Linked DNA regions of Homo sapiens: region 2 is linked to region 1. The links come from fine-mapping of genetic effects on gene expression. Tissue or cell type: whole blood. Region 1 holds a variant in brackets; the other region holds the start of a gene. All regions are shown on one strand. Distances are between the middles of the regions.

What was found. PIP is the estimated chance that this variant, and not a neighbour inherited with it, causes the effect.
Region 2: IL12RB1 starts here. The variant in region 1 is fine-mapped to the expression of IL12RB1 in whole blood (TOPMed, PIP above 0.99). The same link has a PIP of 0.9 or more in T cells and blood mononuclear cells.

The regions. Positions count from the first base shown.
Region 1 is chr19:18,056,884-18,061,127 of GRCh38, reverse strand. It overlaps IL12RB1 (interleukin 12 receptor subunit beta 1), which reads left to right. Exons shown (of 17, transcript NM_005535.3): 15 at 1-6; 16 at 1,043-1,234; 17 at 1,515-2,133. The coding sequence ends at 1,520. Among named protein-coding and RNA genes, the nearest start is that of IL12RB1, 28 kb to the left of the region's middle. The variant T/A (reference allele first, on the strand shown) is at 1,941.
Region 2 is chr19:18,084,986-18,088,985 of GRCh38, reverse strand. IL12RB1 (interleukin 12 receptor subunit beta 1) reads left to right here and starts at 2,052. Exons shown (of 17, transcript NM_005535.3): 1 at 2,052-2,226. The coding sequence starts at 2,163. RefSeq lists enhancers at 1,721-1,780, 1,791-2,140.

The sequences.
Region 1 (4,244 bases):
AAGGAGGTAAGGATGCCTTTTCTAATTCCAAGTCTTTTTATTGGGTGCACATGCTGGACAAGGGTTACGCATTAGCTCATTTTATTCTCTCCCAATTCATCAAGGTAAGGACTCCAAAACCAGTGCTCCATACCCCTTCCCATTTTAAAGACAGGCAGGCAGAGGTCCATTTCCTGGCACTAGAAACAGAATTCAAAGTGGCTTTATTATAAAGGAAACCTGATGGAAAAAATCCCAAGGGAATGGGCTTCAGATATGCCTGAATCCAGCGATTGGGGTCTATCTCGGAGCTGCCCGTTCAGGGTTCTTCCGCAGGCAGGCTGAGCCTTCTCTGATTGGAAGCAGGGTGTCCATTTTCCCCATTAACTGGGGCAAAAGTCTCAGGGCCATCACTGATTGGTCCAGCTTGGGTCACATGCCCTTCCCTGAGCCTATGGCTAGAACCAGAGGGGTAGGGAAGGGTCTGATGGGTGGGCTGGCCAGGGTCACATGACCATTGCTAGAGCTGAGGTGGGGTCACTGCACTGTCAACCACACCATCTGTGAAAAGAGGGAGGGAAATTTCCCAAAGACAGATGGGAGTGCTCTTCCTAAGAGGGGCTGAATGGGAGTCAGTGCGGCAGACTCCATCCTCAAATCGGTCTCAGGATATATGGAGTCTCGCTCTGTCACCCAGCCTGGAGTGCAGTGGCGCCATCTCGGCTCACTGCAACCTCTGATTCCCGGGTTCAAACGATTCTCCTGCTTCAGCCTCCCAAGTAGCTGGGATTACAGGCGTGCGCAACCAAGCTCAGCTAATTTTTGTATTTTTAGTAGAGATGGGGTTTGGCCATGTTCTCCAGGCTGGTCTCAAACTGCTGACCTCAAGTGATCCACCCGCCTCAGCCTCCCAAAGTGCTGGGATGACAGGTGTGAGCCACTGCACCCGTCCAGGTCTCAGGATGTTAGAGAATTTAACCAGCAGTGACCTGGTCCGTTCCATCCTGCTGTGGATGGGAAGTAGAGCTCTGCTCACAGCTGTGGCCCTACCCTCCCTCTGCAGACTTGGCAGTGGATCAACCCAGTGGACTTCCAGGAAGAGGCATCCCTGCAGGAGGCCCTGGTGGTAGAGATGTCCTGGGACAAAGGCGAGAGGACTGAGCCTCTCGAGAAGACAGAGCTACCTGAGGGTGCCCCTGAGCTGGCCCTGGATACAGAGTTGTCCTTGGAGGATGGAGACAGGTGCAAGGCCAAGGTCCTGGGGCCCAGTGGGCCAGACGGTCAGGGGTGCAACCCTGCCCGGGGGGTGGGGGGGCTAGACATCCATCGCTCCTGGGATATCAGGGCCTGGAGGCCTGAGGGAGAAACGAAAACATCCACTTTGTCTTACAGACACGAAGAGCGACTATCTCAATCACAACGGCTGGTTATTAAGCACTTATGGCATACCCAGCCCATTCCATCCACTCACATGATTCCCTACCAAATCCCTACAACCACCCCCTGAAAGGAACCATGACTGTTGTACTTTACAGATGTGATCGTTGAGGCTCAGAGAGGGTGAGTGACTCGCCCGAGGCTACGTAGCACACACAGGAGTCACATTTGGACCCAAATAACCCAGAGCTCCTCCAGGCTCCAGTGCACCTGCCTCCTCTCTGCCCCGTGCCTGTTGCCACCCATCCTGCGGGGGAACCCTAGATGCTGCCATGAAATGGAAGCTGCTGCACCCTGCTGGGCCTGGCATCCGTGGGGCAGGAGCAGACCCTGCCATTTACCTGTTCTGGCGTAGAATGGACTGGGAATGGGGGCAAGGGGGGCTCAGATGGATCCCTGGACCCTGGGCTGGGCATCCACCCCCAGGAGCACTGGATGGGGAGTCTGGACTCAAGGGCTCCCTGCAGCATTGCGGGGTCTTGTAGCTTGGAGGATCCAGGCATATAGGGAAGGGGGCTGTAAAC[T/A]TTGTGGGAAAAATGACGGTCCTCCCATCCCACCCCCCACCCCACCCTCACCCCCCTATAAAATGGGGGTGGTGATAATGACCTTACACAGCTGTTCAAAATCATCGTAAATGAGCCTCCTCTTGGGTATTTTTTTCCTGTTTGAAGCTTGAATGTCCTGCTCAAAATCTCAAAACACGAGCCTTGGAATTCATTCATTCATTCATTCATTCATTCCACATATATTTATTAATCTCTTCCTCTAGGTCTCCTCCAGGAGCACCTAATCCGGGGGAGACAGAGCCGGATGAGAGCTTGGAACCCTACTAAGTTAGGACTGAGCAGGGGAAGGGACGGCCTAGGGGGAGTGGAGCAGCCGGGCACTCCGGTAACAGGAACCGTGGTTTGCCCCCACGCTCCTTCCTCCTCACGCCCACCAACTCGCAGCAGGACCCTTGCCCCCCTTACACACCCTGAATCCTCCCTCTTTCTGCCCACACTGCCCCACCTCCCTCGCGTTCTGCAGCCGCCTCCCCCTGATCCCCACTGCGGTCTGAGCCGAGGTGTGGGGGGGGGCTCCTGAAATCCCACCCCAGCCCTGGCGATTAGCGGGTAGTCCAGATTCTCCCCATGGCCACCAGGTGGCAACAGCGGCGCGCGTTTCCCCGGCCGGGCCCGCCCTGCCTCCTCCCACCGCGTTTGCTAAACAGACTTTTCCGGTTTCAGACAGAGGAGGGGAGTTAAAAAGCCCAGAACTACTGAATTTTGTGGCAAAAAAAGGATGAGACCTCTCGGGGAGAGACCCCTGGCAGCCAATAGGGCCAGGAGGCAAGAGGCCCAGGCCCCGCCCCTTTGGTCTGGGGGCCTCCCTTTCCCCATCGATGCATCTAGATAGGGAAACAGAGGCCTGGATCTCGGTGCCCCAGCCACACGGTGGCTGGTCAGAGTTCTGCAAATGCCCCCCGCCCCGCTCCGGATCTGCCACATCCCAGCTTCTGCTCAAGCCGTTCCCTCCACCAGGCATGCCCTCCCTTGAGCGTTTATCCTCCTTTCTTTTTTCTGAGACGGAGTTTGGCTCTTGTTGCTGGAGTGCAATGGCGCGATCTTGGCTCACGGCAACCTCCCGGGTTCAAGCGATTCTCCTGCCTCAGCCTCCCAAGTAGCTGGGATTACAGGCGCCCGCCACCCTGACCAGCTAAAATGTGTTTGTATTTTTAGTAGAAACAGGGTTTCACCATGTTGGCCAGGCTCGTCTTGAACTCCAGACCTCAAGTGATCCACCCGCCTCGGCCTCCCAAACTGCTGGGATTGCAGGTGTGAGCCCTGGAGGCCCCTGGAGTTGGCTGCAAACCCACCCCTATGCACAGTCCCTTGGGTGCGAGAAGTAGGAGACAGGCAATGTTTACTGGCAGCAGCTGGGACTTTTGCCAGAGTGCATGGGGAAGATGCACACCCTGCTTCCACTAGCGGGAGACTGAGCTGGACAGAGGGAAGCCTGGAGCTTGGAGCCTCTTTCCTTCCTACCGTGGGGATGCCTGTCTGAGAGAGGAGCCTGCAGGGAGGACAGCAGCACCGAGATGAAGCATTAGTTCCTGGATCCAGCCATACCTGAAACCCAATATTTTCCATCTGGTTCCTGTTTTTAAAAAATATTTTAGGCCGGGCATGGTGGCTCACGCCTGTAATCCCAGCACTTTGGGAGGCAGAGGCGGGCTGATCACCTGAGGTCAGGAGTTTGAGACAAGCCCGGCCAACATGGTGAAACCCCGTCTCTACTAAAAATACAAAAATTAGCTGGGCGTGGTGGCAAGCGCCTATAATCCCAGCTACTTGGTAGGCTGAGGCGGGAGAATCGCTTGAACCTGGAAGGGGGTGGTTGCAGTGAGCCGAGATTGTGCCACTACACTCCAGCCTGGGCGACAGAGCGAGACTCCGTCTCAAAAAATAAATAAATAAATAAATAAATAAATAAATATTTTTTTTTATTTTTTGTTTCTTTTTTGAGACAGGGTCTCACTCTGTTGCCCAGGCTGGAGTGCAGTAGCACCATCTTGGCTCACTGCAACCTCCACTTCCTAGGATCGAGTGATCCTCCAGCCTCAGCCTCAGGCTCAAGCCTTGTTGCCAAGGTTTTGCCATGTTGCCCAGGCTGGTCTCGAACTGCTGAGCTCAAATGATCCACCTGACTTGGCCTCCCAAAGTGCTGGGATTACAGGCATGAGCCACTGCACCCGGCCTCAGTTCCCTGTTTGATGAAGCCACTTTGAGTCCTTCTTCTGTCCCTAGAAAATGACCAACAGGAGGTTCTTTCTGGGCCTCTGCTTA
Region 2 (4,000 bases), 28 kb before region 1:
GATCTCAGCTCACTGCAACCTCTACCTCCCAGGTTCAAGTAATTCTCTCTGCCTCAGCCTCCCGAATAGCTGGAATTACAGGCACATGTCACCAGGCCTGGCAAATTTTTGTATTTTTAGTAGAGACAGGGTTTCGCCTTGTTGGCCAGGCTGGTCTCAAACTCCTGACCTCAGGTGATCCGCCCACCTCGGCCTCCCAAAGTGTTGGAATTACAGATGTGAACCACTGCACCCAGCCCAGCATTATGTTTTTGAGGGTTCATCCACATGGTAGCTTGGATCAGAGCTTCTCCACTGACATTTAGAGGCTTTGCCGACAGTGGGGAGGGAGGGGCAGGAAACAAAATACTCAGAGGCTAAGAAATGGAACATGGGGGAAAGACTAAGTTGCATCTCTTAAATTTTTTTTTTTTTTTTTTTAAGAGACAGGATCTTGCTCTGTTACCCAGACTGGAGTGCAGTGGCACAATCACGATTCACTGCAGCCTCAACCTCCTGGGTTCAAGCCATTCTCCCACCTCAGCCTCCTGAGTAGCTGAGAATACAGATGTGTGCCACCACGACTGGCTAACTTTTAATTTATATATATATATATATTTTGAGATGGAGTGTCACTCTGTTGCCCAGGCTGGAGTGCAGTGGCGCGATCTCGGCTCACTGCAACCTCCACCTCCTGGGTTCAAGCGATTCTCCTGCCTCAGCCTCCTCAGTAGCTGGGATTACAGGTGCCTGCCACCACACCCGGTTAATTTTTGTATTTTCAGTAGAGACAGGGTTTCACCATTTTGGTCAGGCTGGTCTCAAACTCCTGACCTCGTGATCCACCTGCCTTGGCCTCCCAAAGTACTGGGATTACAGGCGTGAGCCACCGCGCCTGGCCTAATTCTTTATTTTTTATAGAGATGGGGTCTTGCTATGTTGTTTAGGTAGACCCAAACTCCTGGGGTCAAGTGATCCTCCCACCTCGACCTCTCAAAGTGCTGGGATTAGAGGGGTGAGCCCAGGTGCACAAGGCTGGAGCTTGGCATGTGGGGAGGTGGGCATTGTGGAGGGCCAGCATGCTGCAAGCTCTTTGTAACAATTTGTTGGAAGGATGAAATTAGGCCATCCAAGAACACTGCCCTCCTTCAGCTCTTGAGTCTCAGATTCAGAAGCTGGCGAGATGGCCCGGTGCGGTGGCTCACGCCTGTGATCCCAGAATTTTGGTAGGCCAAGGCGGACGGATCATTTGAACCCGGGAGTTTGAGACCAGCCTGGGCAACATGGCAAAACCCCCTCTCTTAAAAAAAAAAAAATGCAAAAATTAGCTGGGCGTGGTGGTGCATGCCTGTAGTCCCAGTTCCTGGGGAGGCTGAGGTAGGAGGATGGCCTGAGCCTGGGGAGGTTGATGTTGCAGTGAGCCGTGATTGCACCACTGCACTACAGCTGGGCCACAGATCAAGACCCTATCTCAAAAGAAGAAAAAAAGAATTTGGCAGCCAGGCACGGTAGCTCACGCCTGTCATCCCAGCACTTTGGGAGGCTGAGGTGGGTGGATCACTTAGGGTTAGGAGTTCGAGACCAGCCTGGCCAGCATGGTGAAACCCTGTCTCTACTAAAAATACAAAAATTAGCTCGATGTTGTGGCAGTTGCCTGTAATTCCAGCTACTCGGGAGGCTGAGGCAGGAGAATTGCTTGAACCCGGGAGGCAGAAGTTGCAGTGAGTGGAGATCATGCCACCACACTCCAGCCCGGGCGACAGAGCAGGGCTCCATCTCAAAAAAAAAAAAAAAAATTGGCTAGAGAGGGCCAGAGACCTGGCCAAGTGCATGGAACCACAGGTGGCCCATGGGCCCATGGGGCTGGCATCTGGGTGTTCAGTTCAGGTCTGGGGCCAGCAGGGCAGAACCCCCTAGAACCCTGACTTGCTCCAAAGTCAGACTTGCTCCAGAGTCTGTGGCCGCCACCATCACCACCACCACGGAGCTGACTTCCTGGGTTTCTCTTTCACTTTGACTTGCCTTAGGGATGGGCTGTGACACTTTACTTTTTTTCTTTTTTCTTTTTTTTCAGTCTTTTCTCCTTGCTCAGCTTCAATGTGTTCCGGAGTGGGGACGGGGTGGCTGAACCTCGCAGGTGGCAGAGAGGCTCCCCTGGGGCTGTGGGGCTCTACGTGGATCCGATGGAGCCGCTGGTGACCTGGGTGGTCCCCCTCCTCTTCCTCTTCCTGCTGTCCAGGCAGGGCGGTGAGTCCCCTGACCCTGGCATGGCGGCTCCTCTTGCTGGGTGGAGGCACGTGTATGTGTGGAGAGCTGTGGGCCTGCTGTGTGGGTTGGTTTCATCTCTCTGTGCCTCAGTCTTTCCTGCTGTCAAATGGGAGATGGGCAGTCATGGCTTCTGGGATCGAACTTAGACATCTTTCCTCTGGTCTAGATTTTCTCTTCTGTGAAATGCACTAAATTTTTTCCACCTCCCGGAGTTCAATGAGAAAAAAAACTAAGGAAGGAATAAAAAGCAAGTATGTATCTAATAGGTATACATAGTATAGTATCTTATGTATGTAGTTTACAATAGATAGACATACATAATATAATGTATACAGTCATTTCCATATTTACGGGGCAATGGTTCCAGGACCCTCTGCAGATACCAAAATCCAAAGATGCTCAAGTTCCTGATATAAAATGGTAAAGTATTTGCATATAACCTATGCACATCCTTCCGTATACTTTACTTATTTATTTATTTATTTATTTATTTATTTATTTATTTATTTATTTACTGAGGTAGGGTCTCACTCTGTGTCCCAGGCTGGAGTGCAGTGGCCTAATCATAACTCATTGCAGCCTTGACCACCTGGGCTCAAGTGATCCTCCTGCCTTAGCCCCTTGAGTAGCTGGGACTGCAGGTGCACACTACCATGCCTGGTTAATTTTTTTGGTGTATACTTTTTACAGAGACAGCGTCTCGCTGTGTTGCCCAGGCTGGTCTCGAACTCCTGGGCTCAAATGATCCACTCACCTTGGCCTCCCAAAGTGCTCAGATTACAGGCATGAGCCACCATGCCCAGCCTTCCCATATACTTTTAATAATCTCAGGCCCTGCACGGTGACTCACTCCTGAAAATCCAGCACTATGGGAGGCCAAGATGGGTGGATCACTTGAGGTCAGGAGTTCGAGACCAGCCTGGCTAACATGGTGAAACCCCATCTCTACTAAAAATGCAAAAATTAGCCAGGCTTGATGATGGGCACCTGTACTCCCAGCTACTTAGGAGCTGAGGTGGGAGGATCGCTTGAACCCAGGAGGCAGAGGTTGCAGTGAGCCGAGATTGCAGCACTGCATTCCAGCCTGTGTGGCAGAGCAAGACTCTATCTCAATAATAATAATAATAAATAAACTTTCCTTCTCTGTACACTGGGGATCAGCGGGGTGCTGACTTTTTCAATGGCTCTTGAGATGCACTGAGTGCCTGTAGAATGCCCACAGCAGTGCTGGCCACACCTCAAGGTCCCAGCGCCTTCAGGGGCCAGGCATGGCTGGAGACCAGCAGCAGGGAGGGGGCGAGAGGCAGCCCACGAGGTATCCTGGAGATAGTGGCAGTGAGTGGTCAGTCCAGGGAAAGGGAAGGAGGATGGGCTTTAGGCTCTCAGGGGTGGGTGGGTGGGTGGGGGTTCTGTGTCATCACAGAGAGAGATGGAAGGATGGAGAGCCTTGTGTGTTAAGCATCTTTCCCCCCTCAAGGTTGGACACTTGGGGCTGTTTCCTGGGGTGCCGCCTTCTCCCCCAAGGCTTCCAATCTGCCTGCAGGGCTCAGGACAGGTCCTTCTTGTGGGAGTGAGGGCGCCGGGGTCTTCCTGACCCATCCATGGTGGCATCCCCCTCCTTCTCTCACCCAGTTCCACACCTAGCAGACTGTGGCAATCCCAAAGGGCACGGGGATCCCAGTGGCTGAGGGAGGTCGCTGCCTCCTGGAGAAATGTTATTAATAATTGCCCTGACTGCTAGTGGGCCAAGTGT